Linked DNA regions of Homo sapiens. The protein of the gene in region 4 purifies or fractionates together with the protein of the main gene of each other region. This does not show direct contact. Each region holds a gene or a part of one and is shown on either strand. Other genes may lie near its edges. The genes, in order: DENND11, TGFBR3, CD109, DKKL1, RAD51B, AMD1 and XPR1.

Region 1 (3,500 bases), on a different chromosome or scaffold from region 4:
AACTATTGCGGCTTTGCATAAACAAAGATCATGTACCTGTCAAAAAATGACTTAATTTTAAAAAGTGATGGTAGTATTAAATCCAAACTGAAGGCAGAATATACCCCAGCTTTCATTATAGAGTGAAGACTCATCATGCAGGACGTTGGCTGAAACGAAAGGACACCACCCGAGGCGTGAAACATCGCCATGGATGTTCTTGGAAAGACATCTGCTGCTCTGGCACGCAAATGCTGTCTCCGAGGGCTCGTGCCATATGCACCAGCTGGTGGATCCTGCTGCCTCCCTGCACATGTACGGAAGCCACGTACCGAACCTGGTTCTCCAAGAAGTGCATGTAGCGGTAAAGCAGTGTGTAGGAGGGAGAGAGGATGCCCACAGACTTCATCCGCGCGCCACGTTCCAGCTCGCTCTCCACGGGCATGTTGGCAAAGCAGGCCAGGCCGAAGAAGGGCCCCTTTCGGAAATAGCTAGAAGAGACCAAATACGTAGTGTGGCTCAAGATCAGAGAGGAATTTTGAGATGCAATCCTAAACAAAACAAATGAACTGTGTTCGGGGCTGTCAATGACAAAGCTCAGCCTCAAGAAAACAAGCGGGCCAAGCCACATGACCTCACTGATGAGCTTGAAGAGATTACATAACTTGCCAAGGGTCACTTGGCTGGAGCTGGGACTTAGTCCGTGGCAAGCCTGCCGCTCAGCTGCCCACAATCATGGACACATCTCTTCTCTCCTGCACCACGACTAATGACTTGGATGGGTGAAGCAGAACCAACATTCCTCTTCAGGCTCCTCTGGAACTTGGACTCTCTTTCGTAGCATAAACCACAGTGATTCTTCCCTTACTTCCTGAGGCTCTGATATTTTTCACTGAGCTGCCATTTTATTTCCTCCTCTTCTCACACTTGTATCAATCATGAATTAAGCCCCATGAGGAGATTAAAGCCACTTCATTACCCTTAAGCTCTTTCCATTGTTCCTTCTCGCAAAACTCTCTGAATGCCCCACTACACAGGACTAAAAAATGGCCTTACTTAAAGCTGAAATTTCAAGGTTGAACACATAGATATCCTCAGTTAACTCACACGGGGCTGAAACTGTGCACTTTCATTAAAACCAAACCTCAAGTGAGGTCCATGTAATTTCTGAGAAAGTGAGAGAACCTCTACAGGCAGGGATTCTTAAGATTTGCAGGTCATGAAGCCCATTGAGAATCTGATGAAAGCTAGACATCTCACTAGAAAAATGATGTAAACACAAAACTATCCATGTATTTTCAAGGCATTTACACACAGCACACGAAGACCTCCTAATAAGAGCCCTTCAGCTTTGGGGAAAGTGTGGAGGTGGGGGGAATGGTACGAAGATGACTCCAGTTCAGAAGTACTTACATGAAATCAGATTGGATTTTATGGGACCCACTGGCCATAGACTTGAACTCAACACCTTCAAGGTCAATATCTTGAGGTAAGCACCATTCTACCATGTTTCCTGCAGGAAAAGGAAGATGCAAGTTAAAAGAAACAACATCATTCAAAGAAAATGGGTTAGTACAGGGCTTAGCACACATGGCTTTTCAATAAACCGACTGCTGACTCAGCCTCAGACAGACCAGCGAGATGCTCAGAGCTCAGCCCCTCCATCACTGGCAGGGGTGACGCCGGAGGACGTGGAGGTGGACACTAAAAGAACCTCCCATTTCTGCCCTCAAACACTGTTCTCCTCCCTCATGAGGATGCTGCGTTTGCTTCTGTCATTCTGCTCAACCACTTCCAAATCTGCTTTTTGTAGCCTCACTTCTCTGCATGTTTTTTTAACCTTCCACCCTCATTTCCTTATCTTGTGTTCTCCCCTTAATCCCTTGAGATCTTGATTCTATCTATAGCCACTAATGACTGGGAAAAAATCCCAAAACATTTTTTAAATTCTCATTCTCGTTTACCTCTAGGTAGCATTTGCTAATTCCTCAAACATTTCTCCTCTTTTTCCTGGATTTTCATGATAGAATACTATTTTAGTGCTTTTCCTACCTCTCTGACCAATGTAACTCTGTTTCCCCTCCTCTCTCTCTCCTCTCTAAGTGAGGTCCTTCTTCAAGGGACAATGATATTTGCTTCCAGAATTTTGGGACTCATTCACTCATCATTGATTATTCAGTTTCTCCTGAGCTAGATGCTGGAGATACAAAGTCCCTGACCTCAGTGAGATTAGATTCCAGAGAGAAATGAGGAGAGCTAGAGGAGATCAGCAGTTACAGTGCAGTGGGATCAATGTTATGACAGAGGATAAGGTGCGATTTTTTTTTTTTTTTCTCGAGACTGAGTTTCACTTTGTCGCCCAGGCTGGAGTGCAGTGGCACAATCTCGGGTCACTGCAAGCTCCACCTCCCAGGTTCAAGGCGATTCTCCTGCCTCAGCCTCCCACGTAGCTGGGATTACAGGCGCATACCAGCACACTCGGCTAATTTTTTTTTTTTTTTTTTTTGAGACAGAGTCTTGCTCTTGTCACCCAGGCTGGAGTGCAGTGGCGCGATCTCGGCTCAATGCAAGCTCCGCCTCCCAGGTTCATGCCATTCTCCCGCCTCAGCCTCCCCAGTAGCTGGGACTACAGGCACCTGCCACCAGGCCCGGCTAATTTTTTGTATTTTTAGTGGAGACGGGGTTTCACCATGTTAGCCAGGATGGTCTCAATCTCCTGACCTTGTGATCCGCCCACCTCAGCCTCCCAAAGTGCTGGGATTACAGGCGTGAGCCACCGCACCCGGCCATGCCCAGCTATTTTTTTTGTATTTTTAGTAGAGATGGGGTTTCACCAAGTTGCCCAGGCTGGTCTTCAACTCCTGACCTCAGGTGATCCACCTGCCTCGGCCTCCCAAAGTGTTGGGATTACAGGTGTGAGCCACCGCTCTAGGCCAAAGTAGGATTTTAAAAGTACAAGCATGCCTCGGGCTGCGGGAATCAGGGAACTACACAATAGCAGTGTTATCTAGAGTCTTGAGAGAACACTATAGAATACTCCCTGTTGTTTTCATGCATATTCAAAAGGGTTTAAAGCAAAACACTAAGCTATTTGTGAGATTTCATTTCAGAACAAACTTCTTATTAACACTCCAAATCCTAATTTGCTAGGCATTAGAAAAACCATCAATGATCCCAGCCAAACAACGCTTTCAGATAATTGTTCAGGGCATCAGGGAATACACAATCTAGTCTCAGGACATGGTAGATATCATAGAGCATTGTCGAATCTCACACTCAACAGCCCAAGTCACTTTCAAATAGTTTATTTTCAAAAGAGGAATTATGATTCTGATCATTTAGTCAATTCACTAAAGTGAAAAGCATGAAAAAGGAATTAAGAGTTCATAAAGCAGAAAGCCTCGAACAATGTTATGTTTGTCAGGGTCAAAGATAAGAAAAAGCACTCAGAAAGAAAGAGGGGTGACCTTGGGGATAAGACGAGTTTTTTAAGCACCAAGTTCCCCCACGCTTTCCTATAT
Region 2 (3,500 bases), on a different chromosome or scaffold from region 4:
ATATCATCTGTTGGTCTTATGGGAAGGTCCTCATCTAATGAGCTGGTTTTGGTGCTCAGCTGCAAGCTCAGCTTCATAGTGGGAGGGGTGAGAAGCTTAAAGGGTCAAAGTGGGGTACTTCCATATGTTAAAAGTGACTTTGGTGCACGTGTTTCTGTTTTGGAAAGACACATAACTCTCACATTCGCACTGACTCTGGGACAGAGCCCGCTGGCGCTAGATGTTGTTTTCCTTGATCATATGGATTCTGCCCCTCCCCCATTCTGAGAGTTCTCTTTCTTTGAGCACACCTTCTTTCTCCATTGGGGAAAATATACTGCCTTCTACATGCTTTTCCTAAGCCAAGATGGCTGTTTTTCTCTTGCTTTTCTGGCTGTACAGTTCACATGGGCAGTTGGTCAACAGCACCCTATTGCGCTGTGGATTTCAGGGGTGCTGCATAATTGCAGATTGTTCTTTTCCAAATCTATGCCTGGCTTTGCTGATTTATGCTAATCAGTGGTCAATCTTCCTCCTGTACCTTACCCTGGATATTTTGGGTTTTTTCCCCCATCCTTCAAATGCTGGCTTACTTGAAGTGTGTTATTGGTAGTTTTTTTTTTCCATTCTTGTTTTCCCATTTATACCTTTTCATATATCACCTATATTTCTCATAGTTTATCCTCTATTCCCTCTACACCATACAGTCCCTTTCATAATCCAAGTTAACAGTGTTGCCACCTGTTCATTGGTCATCTCCAGGTGACTGTTGGTCACATAATGGCAGTTTTCTTTTGGTTCATTTGTCTTGGGGAATTTACAAACCCAGTTGTTAATAACCCAAAATTTTAAATCTAGAATACTACTATTACTAATAGGTAGCATTTATTGACACTCTGGGAACTGTGTTGTTTGCATGTAACTTTTACTTTGCTAGTTTTCACAATTATGATATCTTGTGGGTATTCGTGTTCTCATTCTGTAGGTGAGTAAACTGAGTCTCGGTGCCCAGCACGTGAGCAGGAGAGCATGTAATTTTTATGAGCTCGTCTCACTACAAAGCCCGTAGTCCTTCTCCTACTCACTTCTGGTCTAAAAGTAAAATCCTTTTTAGTAAAAGATTTGCTGATAATTTATATATATAAACTATATATACATAAAATATATTAAAAAATAATATATATTTTTTCCCTCTGCTACAAAGGTATCCCTTTTTGGGATACCTTAGACATTCTGCCGCTACATACTTTCTTTTGAGATTAGAGAAGAGATTTGCAGTCCCTCTGTTACACATTTTGGCATGTGGTTTCTGAGTTCATGTTAAACGGCAGTTTTTAGTAATAGCACATATGTAATTTGCCACCTTTCCAAGATAGAATATCTTGTTTTTCAGAAGTATTGCAAAAATACTGAAGTGTTAGTATTTACAGAATGTCACCACAGTGACATTATCAGAATCCTCTTCATTAGCATTTTCACTGTTGAGTGTCCTGCAGTTAACCACCACGTAGGAATCTTTCACAACAGTGCTGCGGATTCAAAGCCCCATGTGATGTCAGGGGTTTCCCCTGGGTATCTCAGCGTGGAAAGTCTGTTTCTATCTCCATGTCTTTTGAAATGATTCTGCGGCTGTTGGTCTATGGGTAAGGACTAGCTGTTTCTACAAGTGTTTAAGTTTATTTTGATCCTAAATTTAGTCAAAGAATGAGGCATAGCAGGGAGGGGCAGTTCATGCAGTGATCCACGTGTCACCAAATGGAGAATCTCCTCTGGTCTGGGGATTTTAGCTAAGTTCAGGATAGTTGAGGTTTGAATTCTGTTTACACTTGGCTAAACATTACTTCCTGTTTCTAAGGAAAAGAACCTTAACAAAATTTGGACGTAGCCCATACAAGTGTTTTCAAAGGGGGAAGTATAAATGAGTCGGAAACGTTTCCAGATTAGATTTCCCCTAAACTACCCCTGGGCTTATGGAGCGAAGGGGGAGTACTTGGCAAGGCTGATTTGGATCTGTGAGCAGCTGGGACACTTTACCAGGCCCATGATGGCCTCCAGGTTGCACCGTCACTGACACCCAGCGCCGGAGCCAGCTCTGCCTTCTCGCCGATGAAGCAGGACTCTCATCAGGCTTACTCTGACTTTTTGCAATTTAGAAGCTCAGTCTTCCTGCCTAGGTTAAATAGATTTTGCCGCTGAACTCTATTTTTTGGTCAGTCTTTAAAAAGAGCTTAGCTTATAAGTGTTGTACTATTAAAACATTAGGGACTTTGCCTACTGGTGTTTTATTTACTTCGGAAAATCCACTTTAAATGCAAAATATGTTTTTATTTTTAGCTCTCAGAGGACTCATTGGGAGGTGGAAGAGACTTACTCATCTTGTATTTGAATCTAATGGACTAATATTTGAAAGAAATAATTCACTGTCATCATCTATATCAAATTGAAGTGGAAAATATCTTTTTCTTTCAATGTGTGTGTGTTACTTTTGTAATTAGAAAGAAGGCTATAACTATGTTATGAAGATAAAGCAGCGTGTCATCTGAAGGGCTGTCTTGGCATATGGTCCTTGTGCCTAAAGTGAAAGTGAGATGCTAACTCATTTCCTAATTCATCTTTCTGTTCTTTCATAGGTATCTGTTACTAAGGCTGAACAAGAACTGGGATTTGCCATCCAAACGTGCTTTATCTCTCCATATTCGAACCCTGATAGGATGTCTCATTACACCATTATTGAGAATATTTGTCCTAAAGATGAATCTGTGAAATTCTACAGTCCCAAGAGAGTGCACTTTCCTATCCCGCAAGCTGACATGGATAAGAAGCGATTCAGCTTTGTCTTCAAGCCTGTCTTCAACACCTCACTGCTCTTTCTACAGTGTGAGCTGACGCTGTGTACGAAGATGGAGAAGCACCCCCAGAAGTTGCCTAAGGTTTGTGGGCCTTCATCCATTCGGATGGTTATTTTGGCATTTTTAGGTGAGGCAGAAAAGTTTAATCCCAAGGTCTTGCAGGTTGAGGTTTTTTGTTTTGGAACTGCCCAACTGAAATATTAAAGTCACTATTAGCAGGGAACTGTGAGTTTTATGGAGTCTTAGATAATAAATCCTGACAGCATGAGTTTCTTTTTTCCATGCGTGCTACTTAGTAGTACCTTACGAGTGATAAATCAAGACGCTTTTCCATGGAGGGAGATTTCTGGCTTTATCTTTGCTTTTCAGATAGTTTGCAGGCCAAAAACACAGCAAGCCGAAAGGACAAGTTCATTGTGAGAATTAATTTTTCCAGGTCCTGCTGGGACTGGCATTGTCATTGTTTTTTAACCTTTTCTGTGTGAAATATAAGGTTGACTTGTCTCAGGGAGACTTCTAGGGGAAACTAACAAATATTTTAGCTTTTCTCAGTTTCATATCAGTTCATCATATTTGCCTCCTGTCACTCTCCAGATTGAATGTTCTATTGCCATAACAAAAAGCAGAACCATTTGACCTTGGTGGAATGCATTTGATAGGGGAGATCTGCAA
Region 3 (3,500 bases), on a different chromosome or scaffold from region 4:
CTTCCTACCTCTCTTTCTGCATCCTCTCAGTGTCCTTTTCAGTTCCTCTTTCCTCTCCCTAAATGTGGGAATTTTGGACATCTGTTCTTCTCCCTTCCTCCAAGGTCTCAGCAATCCTATTGCTTAGCTTGTCATCTCTGTGATTGTACCCTAAAGCCAAAATTCCCATCCTTGCCCTTCTCTGGAGTTCATGCCCAACACCTCCAGTTACCTGCAGGAAATTTCTACTTGGATATCCTGGACACCTTGAATTCACATATCTAAAATGAGCAACCATGTCATTTTCCTATTTTCGCTAACATCAGGATTTTGCAAGACTTTACATTTCTGAATTTTCCCTCCCTCTCCCCACCCCCCAAATCCAATGAACACCAAAGTCCTATGCTTCTCTCTTCCATCCTCTCCACTCCCACAGCTACCACCACAAGGCTGCCCATCCCCTCACTCCTGGGCTACAGCCATCCTCCTGCACACAGCCTGAGCAGTCTCCCTCAAACACTACCTGAGTGCACCCCGAAATTGCCAGCCAGACCTCTCCTTCTTGTCTCACTTCTTATCTTGCTCCCCACCTCCCACTCCCATGCCCAAGCATTTAAAACACAACTAATCTTTTAAAAAACAGTTTAGACCATCCTCTTCCATAAAGCATCCCATAGTAACCCCCATGCCTATCCCACAGCCAACTCTCCCCCTCTGAACGCCCATGGTTTCACTCTACTCATTCAGAAATTACCATTTGCAGCCTCAATTTTTTAAACTGACCTTTTCAAACTGCCTAAATTAAGATCATTGAAATCAGAAACTACCTGAAACGTCTACCGACCCATTCAACAAGTGACCCCTCCATTCTTTCTTTGTCGTTTTAGTTGTTTTTTTTTTTTTTTTTGAAATGGAGTTCCACTTTTGTTGCCCAGGCTGGAGTGCAATGGCGCAATCTCCACTCACCACAACCTCCGCCTCCCGGGTTCAAGCGATTCTTCTGCCTCAGCCTCCCGAGTAGTTGGAATTACAGGCATGTGCCACCACGCCCGCCTAATTTTTTGTGTTTTTAGTGGAGATGGGGTTTCTCCATGTTGGTCAGGCTGGTCTCGAACTCCTAACCTCAGGTGATCCGCCTGCCTCGGCCTCCCAAAGTGCTGGGATTACAGGCATGAGCCACCACGCCAGGCCTGACTCCTCCTTTCTTTAAATCAGAGATCAGCCAACTACTGCAAGCTGATAGGCCAATCCAGTATGTTTGTAAACAAAGTTTTACTGGAACACATTCCACTCTCACTTATTTATAAATTGGCTATGGCTGCTTTCACACTACAATGGCAGGGCTGAGTAGCTGTGACAAAGACCACATGGCCACAAAGCTGAAAATATTTACTCTCTAGCCCTTTGCAGAAAAAGTTTGGCAACCCCTGCTTTAAATCCCTACAGAAATTAATTTGTAACACTAATCTTAATCTGCCATGAGTTATAGTTAAGTATATATTTTCCTGTCACCATCACAAAAACTGTGAACCTGAGGGTAGGGACTGAGCCCTTCTTGGCTCTATAGCCCTGCCCAACACCATGCCTTGCTCATTGTCAACATTCACACAATTAATGTGTTAATTCAACATTATCTCCAAAAAATGAGATTTGTTGATAATTTTTTAATGTAACATCTTTGTTAGAACTACAATTAATCATTATAAAAACCAAATTGAAATTGAAATTTTTGACTACCATGTAATTATTTCAATTAATTAATAAAAGCTTCAGTGTAGCAATCCACATCTAACTTAAATTGCTTGTAAAAAAAAATACATTTTCAAAAAATATTTTTACTGTTGTTGAAAACTACTTTTTTAGAAAAAATAGACAAAGGTCATTTGGAAACAAATCTACATGCCCCACATGTCTAAAGAGACAAAGTTATATACTTTTTGGCTTAAATTTTTAGAAAAGCATTGAAAATATTATTTCCCATTCTATTTCATTAAGCTGAACTTACTGCTATGGACTGGAAATAAATATACCAACTTACAGTGGCTGTGAAGTTGAGAGATGGCTTCAAGACAGTAGTATAATCAAAAAACTCAATGATGTAATCATGTTGCTTGAAGAACACATTAGTGCTTACATTTCTTGAAATACCTTTTTTGGAAATTGCACAATTTAGAAAGCAAAAGTAATGTTTCACCCAAAGCTTCTATCCACCAAATCTCTCCATCTAACCTATTGCAAAAAGGGTTAAAAATATCAGGGCACATAAGCCTCATTCCCATATTGACTTTGACACTACAAGCACCACACAGTTCTATTATGTTCTCTATGGATCCCCTCTAAGCACCATTGCTGCCATTCTACCGCAGTGACATGTACAACAGCAGCAAATTAAGGCCAATGAAAGAATAGTCTTTTGCTCTTTCAGGGATTGGCTAAAGTTGTTGAAATAGTAACAGAAAGGTCCAAGAAACTCAACTTTATTTTCTTATTAAAAGTGAAAACTGTCTAGGAACAGCTGAGATTTCAGTGATTTTAAAAAGAAGAAGGTTACCAGCTGAAAATGTAAGCCTTTCCATGTAGTTTTCAGGGGGAAAGAGTAGAAATGGAAAAAAAAATTAAGAAGAGCTATCACATGTGGTTGAAGTAGTGACTTTCATAGAAAATAAGGTCCCCCTTATAAAATCATCCTGCAACTTAGACTAACAGTCATAACAATTTCAACATTAAATAGCATCTTTAGAAAGTCAATGATGCTCCCAAATGAAAGTGCCAGTTATAATAAGAAAGATGATAAAGCAGTGTCACATGAATAGTTTTACCTCCACTTTAAAGTCTACAAACCTGTAACTGATTCTGTCACTGTGGTTAAAATTTCTACTGGTCCAGGGGAAGATAGATCCAGGTATTCAGAAAGTCCATTTGAAGAATCCATTACATTTTTCATCTCTTCATCATTAAAAGAGAAGTTTGCAGATCCATTTATCTGTTTTGTTTAAAAGTTCAGTATTATTTACCATTTTAGCAATTCAAATTTTAGAAATAAAACTCAAACTAAGTCACAACAATATGATAGCTCTGGTACCATTTTAATCGCTATAATTGCATAAATTCTCATTTGTTCAATGCTGGAAAGCTCTTGATTTTCTTACACTTAACTTTTTGTTAATTCAGTACTAAATCTTATTTCTAGAAAAATACACATATTTTACCCATCACAAGTTATAAAGTGTCTGCAAAAGTTACCTTAAATGTTTTTGTAATATTTTTCTTCTTTCCCCAAAAGGATAAAGGTAAAAATGTAAGCGTTACGTCTCCTTTCACTGGCTTCCCATATGTATACCTGAATAATTATAAACATAGTCTTTTTATGTATCAACTTGATATTGTCAGAACACAATAAAAATACTACTTTCAATAGCATACATTAGCAATTAGCAATCTAACATTTTAAAAAATTACATTGGGCTGGGAGCGGTGGCTCACGCCTGTAATCCCAGCACTTTGGGAGGCCGAGGCGGGTG
Region 4 (4,211 bases):
CCACAATAACAACAAAAACATTTTGGAGTTTATAATGGAGAGGTTTACCAACCACTTTGGGATAGATTGAAAAATACTCTGAAGTTTGCAGAGCACTTACTTTGAGACAAAAACACAATTTGGGGTTTATGAGGGTGAAGCTTTCCAAGCACTTAGAATTAAAAACCCTTCTTGGTTTATAAAACATTTTGGTGCTCATAGAAACACTTTGATTGACTATTATGTAGTTAAAAAAAAAAAAGAAAACCACTTTGATACAAAACCCTCTAGGGTCTACTAAACCCTTGCAGATGTATTCTGAGGTCAAAAATCTCATTTCTGACAGTTGGATTGCCCCACTTGAGAGATGGCAAAACTGAGGCTCAGAAGGAGGAAGTTCCACACAGAGGAGTAAGAGGGTCAGTTCCTCTTCTTGTCCTCCTAAACTACAGAAAATGTTAGGGCCTCACCAGGCATGGTGGCTCATGCCTGTAATCCCAGCACTTTGGAAGGCCAAGATGGGCAGATCACTTGAGGTCAGGAGTTCAAGACCAGCCTGACCAACATGGAGAAACCCTGTCTCTACTAAAAAAATACAAAAAATTAGCCGGGCGTGGTGGCAGGTGCCTGTAATCCCAGCTACCAAGGAGCTTGAGGCAGGAGAATTGCCTGAACTTCGGAGGCGGAGGTTGCAGTGAGCCAAGATCGTGCCACTGCACTCCAGCCTGGGTGACAGAGTGAGACTCTTCTTTAAAAAAGAAAAAAAGAAAATGTTTGGGCCTGGACACTTTGACGGCGGGGCACGTCCTAACCTTCAAATCACCCTCGAAGCTCCCCTCCGCTGGTTGAATGGATGCCACCACATTCTCGGAGATCAGCACCTCTCCTGTCTTGTTGTCGGTCATCTGTGAGGATCCGATGAGAGAGTGAGAGCAAACCTGCTTTCCTCCTCCGCCCTCCTTCCCTCCCAACAGATACTGCAGCACGAGGGATGGCGGGATGGAGGGATCCCAAGGGGACTTCAGGAAGGGCTTCCCTGCATAGGCACCTTGTCGATCTGGAGGTGGCTGGAGAGGGTGTTGTTCCCCAGCTGGTGCTCCTGGTTCTCCTCTTTGTGGTAGTTCCCAGGGAGGCCCCGGAAGTCCATGGGGGCAGAGAATAAGCTGTCTATGCCCCGAAGCAGGTTACCCTGGGGCCGGAGGAGGGACTGGTGAGCTGCTGGACCTCACATCTCCTCAGTACAGCCCCTTCTGCAGCCCTGCTAGGATGCTCCCGAGGCCTTGCCCCAAGTCCCTCCCATCCCCTTTACTTTCTGCCCTCTGATACTTAGGGCCTAACCTCCGGCCTCCATCCCCCATGAATTCTCTCTCTATTCTCAGTCCCATTGCCTTACTATCCCTGTTCCTCTTCTGTCCCCATCCCCCTCTCCTCCTGTCTCTTTCCCCAGTCTCTTGTCTCTGTCCCATCTCCTCTCTCTTTGCCTGTTACCTTTCCTCTCTTATTTATGCACGTATATATTTATTTGTTTAGAGACAGGGTCTCCTTGTTCTGTCATCCAGGCTGGAGTGCAGTGGTGCTATCATGGCTTACTGCAGCCTCGACCTCCTGGGCTCAAGGGATCCTTCTGCCTCAGCCTCCCAAGCAGCTGGGATTATAGGCGCATGTACCTGCAACTATTTTTTATATTTTTTTGTACAGATGAGGGTCTCACTATGTTACCCAGGCTGGTCTCCAAGTACTGGGCTCCAATGATCCTTCTGCCTCAGCCTCCCAAAGTGCTGTGATTATAGCCTGGGCCCAGTCCCTTCCCTCTTCCTATCTCTTGGTCTCCCTGTTGCCCTCTCATCCTGTCTGTCCCCCTGCCTGGCCCTGAACCATCTCCCACTCTGTGTCCCTGAACCTCTTCTCAGTACTTCTTCCCCCATCCCCCCGCCATCGCTTACTTTCAGGAAAAGTCGGCTGAAGCCTTGGAGTAGGCTCTGGAGGCCTGTGAGACCCAAGGAGCTCTCTTGGGCGTCAGCATCATGGATAGGAGCTGCAGCGGAGGGGATCACCAGGGTAGAGAGGAGCAGCAGCAGGACCAGCAGATGCCGCCTTGCGGGGGCAGGTGGGGAGGCTGTGGCAAGGGTCGGGGTCAGAGCCCCGCACAGTGGCCACGCCCCCACCCAAGACGCCCCTCTCCAGCACCTTGCCCAGGTCGCCTCCCCAGTTCAGGCAACTCCCACACCGCGCTCATTTCCCCCACTGCTTCTTTCTTCTACTCCCACACCCTCCACCTTGCCAGGCCCCGTCTTCTCCCAGGTCTGGCTCTTCTGGGTTCTGTCTCATATGCTTTTTTTTTTTTTTTTTTGAGACCGAGACTCTGTAGTCCAGGCTGGAGTACAGTGGCACAATCACGGCTCACTGCAGCCTCGACCTCCCCGGGCTCAGGTGATTCTCCCACCTCAGCCCCCCGAAGTAGCTGGGACCACAGGCGCGCGCCTCCACGCCCGGCTAATTTTTGTATTTTTTGTAGAGACAGGGTTTCGACATATTGCCCAGGCTGGTCTCGAACTCCTGATCTCAAGCGATCCGCCCACCTGGGCCTCCCAAAGTGTTGGGATTGCAGGCGTAAGCCACAGCACCCGGCCTCATCCAATGGTCTTTTCCTCACTTTCGCCCACGTTCACCACCAGATCTCAATCCTCACCTTCTCCCATACCCCGCCCCTTCTTCTGGGCTCCGCCTTTATGCTAGACCACAGCCCGGGTCACCGGACTCCCGGATTCCGGCCGCCCACGTACTGTTAAAGCCAAACAGTTATGGTCTCGAGCCCAGGTCTGGTCTAGAGCGTTGGTTGCGCTCCGCGAGCCGTAGCCACGCCCCTATTGTCTGACCACGCTCCAAACTTGCCGGCCTCACCCAGGAGCCCGGGCCTCTACTCCATGACCACGCCCTTGGTGACACAGCCACGCCCCATCCTTCGTTCACCACACCCCTTAAGCCAGAGCCGTGAGTTCATTCCCTGGCCACGCCCACACAGTCAGACCACGCCCACGTCAGTTGACCTCAGTCCTGGAGACCAAGTCCTGGAAGTCCTGGCGGTGTTCTCTGATTGCGGCCCTCGTTTCGGAGTCCCGCCCAATCGCAATGGCCACGCCCCTTGGCTGAAAGCCACGCCCCTGCACTGGGCCACGCCCCTGCACTGGACCACGCCCCTGCGTCCCAGATCTTGCCCTCATCACCCCAAGTTCCAGTCCTAGGCTCCTCCTACTGGAGACACCGGAGTACAAGCATCCCTTTTAGCTCTCACTCTAATTGTGTATCTGTTTCGGAACCTTTTCTCCGTGTCCCTTCTGGTTTTCCCGCTCCCGCTCCACTAAAAAGTCCCGTTGTCTCCGGAAACCCTAAATCCAGTCTTATATTTCATCTTCCAAGGAACCCAGAATCAGACTTCCTTTTCCCTGAGGACCTCAGGTCCGGACTCCCGCCCCCTCTAGTCCCGTAATTTTGAACACGCAGCCTTTCACCCTTAAGGGACCGGGCCCTAAGCCATCTTCCCTCAGGCACCAAAGCTCTCTTCCCCGTCCCGGGACAGCCGCCAGCCGTCTCCAGTCCACTAGCGCCTGTAGATGAGGAATCTGCACCTACGTGGGCCTCCAATAAACTCCCGGTGGTCCTGCCCACGACTCTTAACTGTGGTGAGGTCACAAGGAAACCAGGTCGTCATAGGAATCAGTCAAAACCCATCCCCAGACCCCAATCCTCAAAAAAAAAAAAAAACAAAAAAAACAAAAAACAAAAAAACCAAAAACCAAACAGAAAAAAAGAAAAAAAACCTCAGGGCTTAACAGTAAAGACTCTTTGTATTCGTATCACTTCCGCACCCCCAATACACAAACACGAGGGTAGCCGGGATTCCAGGCGCCTAGCCCCGTCCCCTCTCAGACCTAGGAGCCCATATCTCTCTCCAGCCGCTTCCTCTCCCAGACCCAGGAGTCCCAGCCCCCAGACCCAGGAGTCCCAGCCCCCAGCCTCTCCTCCCTCAGATCAGGGGTTTCTGGCTCCTATCAGCCTTTTCCCTCCGACTTGGAGTCCGAACCCCCAATCCCCCTCCTTTCCCAAGCACCCAAATCCTGAGTTCCTACCAGCCCCGAGATAGACTAATCTCTCCCAAAGCAAAAATCCTTCCCCAAACTGTCACCGTCGGATCCCCCTTCCCGCTGTCCGCCGGCCGGGCCCGCCCCCCCCTC
Region 5 (3,500 bases), on a different chromosome or scaffold from region 4:
ATTTAGCTAGGAAAATTCCAACATTTTCTAAAGGAAATATTTTTCAAAATCCTTTTAAAACCAATCTTACAATCTTAATTGTCACAAAAAACAGATATCACAGTTATATAAGTACATAGTATAATCTGCATTTATTTCTAAATAGAGAAACAAAGCCAAAGGCATAGAAATGGGATATTCAGTACCTATTTTTTCAGAGGGTTCTATTAAAAACAAAGAAAAGCAGTGCCCCTTTCTCACTTGGGAAAATAAATCACCTTAGGAAAAACTGAAAAGCATTAGCCTACAGTTACTACTTAAAAGCAAACAAACACAACATTTAAAAAGTGAATTTTATTTTGCACGGAATTAAGTCAAGCAACAGTATGAATTAATAATAAAATAAGAATATATAGTCATCCCCCTGTATCCATGGGGGATTGGTTCCAGGACTCCTCTGCAGATACCATAATCCACGGATGCTCAAGTCCCTCATATAAAATGGTGCAGTGTTTGCACATAATCTATGTACATTCTCTGGTATACTTTAAATCAACTTTACATTACTTATAATACCCAATACAATGTACATGCTATGTAAATCTCTGCTTAACTATAGGGAATCATGACAAGAAAAAAGTCTGTACATGTTCAGTACAAAGACAACTATCCTTTTCTTTTCTTTCAAATATATATATATATTTTTAGAGAGAGGGTCTCACTCTGTCTCCCAGGCTGAAGTGCAGTGACATGAACATGGCTCAATGCAACCTCAACCTCCTGCGCCTAAGTGATCCTCCCACCTCAGCCTCTTGAGTAGCTGAGACTGCAGGGGCACACTACCACACCCATTGCTTTTTCAAATATCTCCTATCTTTAGTTGGTTGAATCCATGGATGCAGAACCCACAGATACAGAGGGCCAACTATATACATAACTTTCTATTCAATCAAGTATCTTTATACAGTATTTCAAAGTTCCCTTATTCTCCTTGATCAGGAAAAATATAAATTTGAATTTATCATTTTAACCAACTACAATAAAATGTAAAAGATGAACATCACCCAAGACAAACTTAACAGCACTTGACTTTAATTCAAAATATAAACTAAAAAGCCATTAAAGTATGCAGAACTTTTTGAATGTCATATTTTCTCCCTTGACTTCTTCCTTGGTTTTATAAACCTCAAAGGCTGTGTGATAGTTTATATTATTTATACATATTCTTTATGTTGCAAAGATCCAAGATTTTAATTTTCCAAAAACAAATCTAAAAATTATAAAATCATAACCAAATTTTATCTCAGTTTAAGGAACTATCTTTTCTTGAGATGAAGCATGACTAAAATTGAGAAGCCTGAATGTTGATGAGGCTGTGGAACAACGACTAAAACTCCCTGACACACTGCAGATGGGAGTGTAACTTAGTACACACTTACGTCTTGCAGGTTACACATCACAAGCCCTTGTAATAGCCTGTCATCTTCAGATTTCTGATCACAATGCCCGCTACAAAAAGCCATGCCACAAATAATCTTTCAAGGTTTTCTTACTGACACTTTCATTACTATCATTCCAACATCTCTTAATGGTTGACCTCTGACCATTTGAAGCAAACCAAATCCTATTGTACACAAAACAGCGCTGAACACAATAACACAGTATCTAAACCTAAAATACTTAAAACAAAACTAACAACAACTGCAGTATTTTTTTTAATTATATAGAAATAGATCTAGGCAATTTCATGAAGTTTTACTACTTTATATTTACTGCAGTGTGAGAAATGTGATACAAAGCACACACAAAGAGTAAACAATGAGAAGGAAGAAAAGGAGGGACTATAGGAACTTTTAAAAACATCGTTTAAATCTACTCCAGACTCAAATTATTAAAATAATAAAATAATCTCAGCAGATGAGCTAATTTAAGATGATGGCGATGTTTGCTATAGCAATTAGACTGTACTACCTTTAAAAAGTCATCTGTTTTACATTTTCCTCTAATTTTATTATTTGATACCATAAGTCAGTGAATGTAATATAAAAGAAACAAAAGAAAGGAAAAGAAAAAAGAGAAAAAAAGAAAAACTTACTGGGATTGAAAACTCCTCAGCCAAATACTTCAAGGAGGATGCCTCTCTTGCCAAGAACTTGTTTCTTTCTTTGAGATTGCCTTGAAGTTGTGCATCAAACTCCTTTCTGACCACAGAAGCAACAGAGTCAAGAATCACAAGTTTAATTCCTTTTGAGATAATTTCTTCTTCCAAAGATTCAATCCTATAAAAGAAGAATTTATAAAATAGTCAATAAATTTAAGATAAAATAAATAAATAAAGGTATTGCAAAGGCTAAGCAACTTAAAAACAATAAACTATTCTTTCCTAAGTTACAGTAATGATTTGCAAGAATTCAGTAAACCTAACTTGTAGACATATCATACTTTTCTGGAAACAGAGCAAACTGTTTCTGTGTAGTTTCAGAATTCCTTGATTCTCCTAAGATAATGTTAACGCTCCAATTCTGGGGTAAAACTACTTGTGGTAGCCAGTCTGCAAAATGGCCCACACTTACTCCCTCCTCTTGGTATTTTGCATCCTTGTATAGGTCCCTCCCACAGTGTGCCAGACTTGATCTGTATGACCACAAGCATATGACAAGATCATGGTACCTTATTTCTGAGTGTGGGTTATAAAAGACTACAGCTTCCATCTTGGGTACTCTTTCACTTGCCCAGTCTCTCAGGTCACTTACTCTGAGGAAAGCAACTTGCTATGTTGTGATTTATGGAGAGGCCCAGACGGTAAGGAACAAAGGTCTCTTGCCCACTGCCAGCAAGAAACAGAGGGCTTCCAACAACTATATTAGGGAGCTTGGAAGCAGGTACTCCAGCTCCAGTCAAGCCTTAAGATAACTGCAGCCCTGGCCACCAGCTTGACTATAACCTCTTGAGCGACATTGAGCCAGAAACACCCAGCTAAGCTACTCCCAGACACTTAACCCTCAGAAACTATGTGAAATAATATGTATTTGCTGTTTTAAGCTACTAAACTGTGAGACAATTTGTTAATGAAACAATAGATAAATAATACACCACTTAATTAATTAAATACAGAACATTTTATTCATTTAATTTTTTTTGTTTTTCAAGAAAGACTTCAACCAAAAGGCTATAACAAAGAAGAACACTGAAAAAGTTACTCCACATAATTCTAACCTATAAAGACTTTTTTCACTTAGAAGCTGAAACATAAAAGATAAAACATAAACCTTCAACGCATTACTAAAAAATCAAAATCTAAAGCAGCATACCTTTGTAGAACTTCATCACAGGTGAGTTCCCGATAAAGATGAACTTTACTACTTGTCAAAAGTAACTTTTCTTCAGTGTTAAAATATCTGGGAAAACGGGATTCTGCTATTTCAACCAGTCTGTGGGTGAAAAAAATAGCACAAACGAAAACAGTCAATTCTACTTAAAGCCACATTGCTGAATCTCTAATTAATTTTACTTGAGAAACT
Region 6 (3,500 bases), on a different chromosome or scaffold from region 4:
CGTTCCATGGCTGAACTAAACAGTGTAACAGTCTTTTCCTTTCTTATTTTTGTTTTCTCTTTTTTTAAAGGCTGTTGTGGCCAGGCACTGTGGTTCAGAGGCCAAGAAGGAAGGATCACGAGACCAGAAGTTCAAGACCAGCCTGGGCAACATAGCAATAGCCAGTCTCTTAAAAAGAAAAAAGGCAGCTGGGAGTGGTGGTGCAGGTCTGTAGTCCCAGCTACTCGGTAGGCTGATGTGGGAAGTTTGCTTGAGCCCAGGAGATGGAGGGTGCAGTGAACCATGATCACACCGCTACACTCCAGCCAGGGTAACAGAGCAAGACCCTCTCTTAAAACAAAGTATTCACCCTTACAACTTGTAGCACAGATACTTTAAAGTCTTGGTCCATGTCACCTTGAGGTTGGTGTCTGCTGTCTTTTCCTTTGAGATGTTAAGATTTTCCTGGTTTTGAGTATGTTGACTAATTTAGGATGGCATCCTGGATATTTTGACATGTTACATCATTCTAGGTCTTGATTTTTAAAAACTTTCAGCAGACAATCTGGTTTGGTTTAGGCTTCAAGTTTTTACTCAATGTTTCTAGGTTGTGTTATGGTTCCAGTGTCAGGTTTGTTATGAACTCCTTTGCTATGTTATTTGCATCTGCCCCACTTATTTGCCACCCAATGGCCAGGCTGGCCCTGGAGAGGCAGTCTATTGTGTATTCTAGTTTTCAAAGCCTCTGATGTGCTGTTTAGGGTCAGATCCATGCAAAATGGCTAAGGAGTGTTCATATAAAACTTTATAGGTTTACTTTCTTCAACCTTCCATAATCTCTCTGACAATGCCTGACTCACATAGGGGATAGGGGAAGGACTCTTCTTCATCCACTACCTATAAAAATAGGGCTTTGGCCGGGCGCAGTGGCTCACGCCTGTAATCCCAGCACTCTGGGAGGCAGGAGGATCACAAGGTCAGGAGATCAAGACCATCCTGGCTAACAAGGTGAAACCCCGTCTCTACTAAAAATAAAAAAAAAAAAAATTAGCTGGGCATGGTGGCGGGCACCTGTAGTCCCAGCTACTTGGGTGGCTGCGGCGGGAGAATGGCATGAACCCGGAAGGCGGAGCTTGCAGTGAGCCGAGATCGTGTCACTGCACTCCAGCCCTGGCTACAGAGCAAGACTCTGTCTCAAAAACAAACAACAAACAAAAAATGATTCCCTTCTCTCGTTGTTTTAGACATCTGCCTAACTGCCACAGCTGCTAAAGGCCTACAAGAGGATTGGGGCAGAATAGAACAAAACAAAAGCAAAAAAGAGATTTCTTCCACTCTGATTCAAAGGGGCCTCTCATTCTTTCTTTGCAGAGGAGAACTAGAGAGCCTTTCTTGGAACTATTTTTGCCTGCCCCTACTTTTCAGTTCTGGGTTTCTGGCAAGCCCAGGAGAAATCAGCGAGGAGATACCACAGGGGAAAAAAAACAGGAAATTCACTGCTGGTTCAGTGGAATTTAAAGTTCTGGCTTTCTTCTCCATTTCACCTGCTAAAATTTACTTCTCAGAGTCCTTGGATAGCTGCTCAACAATGCATTCTGTCCAGGGTTTATTAATTGCATTTTAATAAGAGAAGACAGTGTAGCATGCTTCTTCTGTAATGGCAGAGAAATAACCTTTTGTTTTCTGAGCCAGTCTCACTGTCACCCAGGCTGGAGAACAATGGCACAATCACAGCTCACTGCAGCCTTGGCCTCCCATGCTCAAAGAGATCCTCCCACCTCAGCCTCCCAAGTAGCTGGGACCACAGGGCATGTATCACTACACCTTACTAATATATTTTTAATTGTTTTGTAGAGATGAGGTCTCCCTATGTTGCCCAGGTTGGTCTCAAACTCCTGGGCTAATGAGATCCTCCCATCTCAGCTTCCCAAAGTGCTAGGATTATAGGCACGTGCCAACCCATTGGCTTCAAAATGCTCTTATACTCACTCATCATCAGTTAATAAAATTCTCCATTCAAACCTTTCCTCAACTAATAGTAATGCTCCGGTAATCAGAATTTTTCAATCATAGTATCAAAAGAAAGCAATTACTTTAAGCAACCTAGGACAAACAGTTAAACTGTCTATCAACCTAGTGATGATAAAGGCATTTACCAGAGCTACTAAGCTCAAGAAAAATAAATCAGAGGGCAAAATAGACGAAAGAAAAAAGTAGTCAATACAATGCTATACATGTACATAAAAGAGGTGAAAAACTCTGCAACAGCTGAAAATTTCAGCACAAATTATTTCTATCACATTTCTGTGGGAAAAAATGGCCTGCTTTTGTAAATAAAGCTCTACTGGAACCTAGCCACACCCATTCATTTATACATTGACTATGGTTATTTTCTCCCTATAAGGGCAGAGCTGAGTAATTGCAACAGACTGTCTGCCTTGCAAAATTTAAAATTTACTCCCTAGTCCTTTACAGAAAGTTTGCTGACTCTTGTTTTGGAGGAAAGGTTTTCAGTGGTCTGCTTTCTGATCAAATTAATGATGGAAAAGACAAAGTGCTTTATACAGTCGACAGAGCCATTTTTAAAATTAGGTTGCAGTGAGCCAAGATCGTGCCACTGCACACCAGCCTGGGCGACAGAGTGAGACTGTGTGTCAAAAATAGAAAAGATAGTATTAAGCTAGAATGTTTTATCAGGCTCAGTAGTGATAGTGGTCTTGTCTCTGCTTCACTCCCAAGTACACTACAAACTGAGACTTTGAAGCACTAGTCTATTATAAACTATTTATAAAACTGATCTATTTGGCAATCCTTGCTATTTAAAGAGTCAATAAATCAAATTGATGGATATAAAGCAGAATCAAGAGAAGCAAGATAGCAAGATGATTTTGGGATTTGTTCACATTACAGCTCACGTAATACTGATCTAGTCATTAGAAATTATTATAAAGCTATTCAAGCACACAATTTTTTTTTTTTTTGAGATGCAGTCTTGTTCTGTCACCTAGGCTGGAGTGCAGTGGTATGCTATCAGCTCACTGCAAACTCCGCCTCCCAGGTTCAAGCAAGTCTCCTGCCCCAGCCTCCCGAGTAGTTGGGACTGATTACAGGCATCTGCCACCATGTCAGGCTAATTTTTTTTTTGTATTTTTAGTAGAGAAGGTGTTTCACCATGCTGGCCAGGCTGGTCTCGAACTCCTGACCTCAAGCAATCCACCCGCCTCGGCCTCCCAAAGTGCTGGGATTTGGGATTACAGGCATGCACCACCATGCCTGGCCCGAAGCACACAATTCTTAGGTGGTTATAAAACACAAAGAAATATGTAGATTGAGTATTTCCTGATTTGAATTCCTTTTTCTCATCTTAAATGCCACCTCTCTGATCTAACTCAGTGGTTCTCAACTTGTAGTAATTTTGCCACCCAGAAGACATGTGGCAACATTTGGAGACATTTTTTATCACAACTGGGGTGGTGGTGGTGTTGCCAGCATGCAGTGGATAGAGGCCAGGGACACTGCTA
Region 7 (3,758 bases), on a different chromosome or scaffold from region 4:
ATTAGCTGGGCGTGGTGGCGCATGCCTGTAATCCCAGCTACTCAGGAGACTGAGGCAGGAGAATTGCTTAAACCTGGGAAGCAGAGGTTGCAGTGAGACTAGATCATGCCACTGCACTCCACTGCCACTGCCTGGGCAACAGAGCAAGACTCCATCTCAAAAACAAACAAAAAAAATCACAGACTCATTTTAAAGGAGCAGCAACCTAACCAAATACAAACTTCATTTGATTTTAGGTTTAGAAATTCTAGTTTTATTTTGGAGAATCACTCAGTTTTTAATATCAATTAAAATAGTCCTCAAAGGAATGAAGAGGAAGTCTAAATAAATGAATAAAACTCATTTTTCATTTTATGGTAGTATAGAAAGCATTGATGTGTGTAGAGAAATTAAAAGACAAGAGTGGTTTACTGTCTATGCACAAATGAGTGCCTATATTTAAGGCTGCCTATACCATTACAGTGGCGTAATTGGTGATTTCATAGCATACAGAGAAACAATGAAATCAAAGATTAAATCATTAGGTTATGATGGTCATTTGTAAGATTGGAAAGTAGTCAAAAACCCATGTGCAACTTTTTTTCAGCACTCTACCATTAGGCTCCTTAGGCAAGCTGCTTAACTTCCGTCAGAAGCAAAGGTGTGGGAGAACACCATTCACCTCAGTAGTAACTTATAAAAACCGTTTAAAGAAGGAAAATGGGCCCCAGCCCCTAGGATCCCTGACTTCCTGATATTCTAAACATGAGAGTTCTGTGACTTTAACTGAGCTCTTTACCAGAAGTAACGTGTTGATGTATATTATCTTTCCACCATGCTTTGACCAAAGTACATTCACAGTAACTAGAGAAAGCAGATCATCCATTTCTGGATAGGTGAACTACGGCAAGGTAAGAACAGAAAAAAGTAAAGTAGTATTGAGTCATGCAGGTATCAGATTAACAGACATTCATTGAAGATAAGTGAAATAACTTTGGAGATAGCAGAGAAGAGCAAGAAGATGTTGGACGTTGGCAGTAAGCCGCAGCAAGGCAGTTAGGAAAGTACGTGAGCCTGATGACGCGAAGGTGATGCCTCCATCTGTCCGCTTAGTGGTTATTAAATTGCTGGGAAAGACCTGCCTTTATTTTCCTATCATCTTTTCCCCATTACTTTGCATTATTCAGGAAATAATTATTTATTCCCAAATGCAGTTTTCTAAGCAGTGACCACAAAAATTTCTTATTCTAAGGAAAATAATTAAGAAAATAACCCTATCTGTGGCATTGTTTTAAAATGTGGGATACAAATCTGGTAAGCAGATTTCAGGTCATTATTGTTTTCTTTTAATGGTTTACATGAAATTTTCCTCTCAAAAAACAAGTACCTCTTACTGTATAACATTTGAGTTTTTAAAATTGAGATAGCTTCTGAGAGAAAAAAAGAAAGTTGAATTTGTAGCTCTCTCAACTACAAAATCACCACACTTTTCTCAAATCTAATAGGAATTCAGTGTCATTACAGATACGGTCTCTAGTGACCAGGTGAAGACAATTGAAGCTTTGGTAGAACTTCTGCAAAAGTTAGGTAAAGAAGAATAAATCCAATTTATCAGCTTTGTTCATATTCTTTTTCTGAGTGATCTAAATTTTTCTTGCTTGTGATCATTAGCTAAGACAAGGAGTGTTAAAGGTTTTCTAAATGCAAACACATACGTTTCTGCATTTCAGAAGTCAGTCTTGATAGTAAATCCTACAAACTCTCAACTTTCTGCATTGTATTTTAAGTCTATACAATGTTAGAGCACATGGTAATGTGGGACAGAGTTGATTATATGATAGCATGAGAAATTTGCACTGGTTGGTGTTACAAACCAATGATCTAACCAGCATACTCTCCAAATATGAAAAAGTAAAAACATCTCATTAGGTTTGGAAGAGCCTAAGGTAGTCCATACAGGAAGTTTGCCTGAGAACAGAGAGGAGCCTGTTGATTGGCATGGCTCATGATGCCTTTCTTGTATGAATTATCAAAACTGATACTGAGTTGCCCCTAGAAAACAGCCTTCCAGAATATGTTTGCTTATTTATGGTGGAAGAGGAAGTGAGAACAAGATGAGAGTTTCCCTTAAAGTGAGGAGAATCATTATACAACTTTGCAACTGAAGTATGTTTCCTTGTAGCAAACCTTTGGTTTATTTTATCGTCAAATCAAAGCCACCCTCAGTTTTTTGTATGGTGCCATCAACCTAAGGAGGACAATCAAATAACCTATTGTTTGCCTTGGATTCAGTATATCTACTAAGTACACAGTCTCGTATACCTTCAAACCAGTTACTTGACTAAACTTCCACCATATTACCTTAGTTCTTCCTATGCCCTTTCCTCTGTGCCACCACAAATCAGAGGGAAAGACTGCAGTACTTCTAGAAAGTTGTGGACTTCTAAGAAAGAGCCAGGCTTCCATCTCACTATCCCTTGATCATTATCTCTGAAGTCCCTACCTGCACTTCCCTGATTGCCCTGTAGCAACACCAGCATGGTGGGAATTGGAGGGAAAGATTGTGGAAAATCCCTAAAGGGTCATTGTTCATGACGTTATTTTGAATTGTAAAATTGTGAGCCACTCACATTTCAATTACAAAAAGAACAGAACTCTTAATCACGTTGTGAAGATTAATTTCTTGCCATTTTCTGGATTAGCACAGAAGCTTGTATCAATGAAGAGTATTTAGGAGGGGAATAGGGGGAAAATTGTATTTTTCTGTTCAAACTCTCTCCTTCTATTTGTGTTTCCTTCACCCCTCTCCCTCCACCACACTGTGTTGGTCAAATGATACTATTCTATGAAACCCTGAGCTATAGTTGTCAAAAGTAACTATGGATTGTGATTAGTCCTCTGTGGGTGCTTCCTTCCCTCTTTTTTCTCCCTCACTCTCTTTCTCAGTCTCCACTCTGGTAAATGGAAAAGGTGATGTCGAAGAATTGATGCTTGCTTGGACTCATGTTGTATCTGTGACTATGCTATTAGCTGTCTCCTTTTTCCTTCCTATATGGGTAGAATTCTTATGACTTATGAAGTTCCCTTCTTGATAAGTAGGTTAAATGCACAATGTGGTACTGTTTTATAGTTTCTAGATGGTTGTATAAAGCAAAAAGTTAATGTGGTTATGTGTTTTTAAAGAAAATAAGTGATTGGTCACTAAACTCTGTCCTTTTTTCATTATTACAATTTCTCTCTGTTTTCCAACAGTTTGCTGACTCCTTTGTCACTGGTGAATGGTTTGTGTGACTGTTTTTCTCTCTTGGTTTCTTGAATTCCTGAACATAGTTCCCCTTAGGACTAATTTTCATATGGGGTTAGGGCAAACAGACTACAGTGGTGAAATTTTTAAACTATCCTACTAAGTTAAAAGAAGTTTAAATGGCTTTTATCTTCAGGTAATATGTGAGGTGTGACTCTAAAGCAATGGGATTGTTGTAACAAATCTTTCTTTTACTCGCACAAAGAATCTCAAATATTACAAATATGAGGTGAAATGATGTGTCCAATTACATTTTGGAGAGGTGGACACTGCTATCACTGCATACCCATGCCCTGTGAGGGAACATAGGACTTTTCTGCAGAATTCCTGGACTAATTATTATTCCTTATATATATCTAGGAAAGATTACAAAATTAACTGACCCTAAGATGAATATACCCACAATGCAAAGGGAAAAATAATTTATTGACTAAAGCATCAAAGCCTTTCATCTTACTTTGGTGCCACAAACTCT

The links.
Region 1: the proteins of DKKL1 (region 4) and DENND11 purify together in Homo sapiens (co-immunoprecipitation; 3 studies listed by BioGRID and IntAct, with this or other methods). This does not show direct contact.
Region 2: the proteins of DKKL1 (region 4) and TGFBR3 purify together in Homo sapiens (affinity purification with mass spectrometry; 2 studies listed by BioGRID and IntAct, with this or other methods). This does not show direct contact.
Region 3: the proteins of DKKL1 (region 4) and CD109 purify together in Homo sapiens (co-immunoprecipitation; 2 studies listed by BioGRID and IntAct, with this or other methods). This does not show direct contact.
Region 5: the proteins of DKKL1 (region 4) and RAD51B purify together in Homo sapiens (affinity purification with mass spectrometry; 2 studies listed by BioGRID and IntAct, with this or other methods). This does not show direct contact.
Region 6: the proteins of DKKL1 (region 4) and AMD1 purify together in Homo sapiens (affinity purification with mass spectrometry; 2 studies listed by BioGRID and IntAct, with this or other methods). This does not show direct contact.
Region 7: the proteins of DKKL1 (region 4) and XPR1 purify together in Homo sapiens (affinity purification with mass spectrometry; 2 studies listed by BioGRID and IntAct, with this or other methods). This does not show direct contact.

What each region holds. Positions count from the first base shown.
Region 1 is NC_000007.14:141,685,167-141,688,666, forward strand, and holds part of DENND11 (DENN domain-containing protein 11), read right to left. Parts: intron 1,493-3,500; coding exon 1,393-1,492; intron 471-1,392; coding exon 312-470; intron 1-311.
Region 2 is NC_000001.11:91,711,652-91,715,151, reverse strand, and holds part of TGFBR3 (transforming growth factor beta receptor type 3 isoform a precursor), read left to right. Parts: intron 1-2,609; coding exon 2,610-2,909; intron 2,910-3,500. UniProt on the Homo sapiens protein: Cell surface receptor that regulates diverse cellular processes including cell proliferation, differentiation, migration, and apoptosis.
Region 3 is NC_000006.12:73,762,203-73,765,702, reverse strand, and holds part of CD109 (CD109 antigen isoform 1 preproprotein), read right to left. Parts: intron 3,320-3,500; coding exon 3,223-3,319; intron 2,963-3,222; coding exon 2,821-2,962; intron 2,128-2,820; coding exon 2,018-2,127; intron 1-2,017. UniProt on the Homo sapiens protein: Modulates negatively TGFB1 signaling in keratinocytes.
Region 4 is NC_000019.10:49,362,466-49,366,676, reverse strand, and holds the start of DKKL1 (dickkopf-like protein 1 isoform 1 precursor), read right to left. Parts: upstream 2,801-4,211; 5' UTR 2,679-2,800; coding exon 2,669-2,678; intron 2,644-2,668; exon of another isoform or gene 2,614-2,643; coding exon of another isoform or gene 2,559-2,613; intron 2,096-2,558; coding exon 1,923-2,095; intron 1,169-1,922; coding exon 1,028-1,168; intron 885-1,027; coding exon 792-884; intron 1-791. UniProt on the Homo sapiens protein: Involved in fertilization by facilitating sperm penetration of the zona pellucida. May promote spermatocyte apoptosis, thereby limiting sperm production. In adults, may reduce testosterone synthesis in Leydig cells.
Region 5 is NC_000014.9:67,885,779-67,889,278, reverse strand, and holds part of RAD51B (DNA repair protein RAD51 homolog 2), read right to left. Parts: intron 3,411-3,500; coding exon 3,291-3,410; intron 2,259-3,290; coding exon 2,075-2,258; intron 1-2,074. UniProt on the Homo sapiens protein: Involved in the homologous recombination repair (HRR) pathway of double-stranded DNA breaks arising during DNA replication or induced by DNA-damaging agents. May promote the assembly of presynaptic RAD51 nucleoprotein filaments.
Region 6 is NC_000006.12:110,881,285-110,884,784, reverse strand, and holds part of AMD1 (S-adenosylmethionine decarboxylase proenzyme), read right to left. Parts: intron 1-3,500.
Region 7 is NC_000001.11:180,887,022-180,890,779, forward strand, and holds the end of XPR1 (solute carrier family 53 member 1), read left to right. Parts: 3' UTR 1-3,258; downstream 3,259-3,758. UniProt on the Homo sapiens protein: Inorganic ion transporter that mediates phosphate ion export across plasma membrane.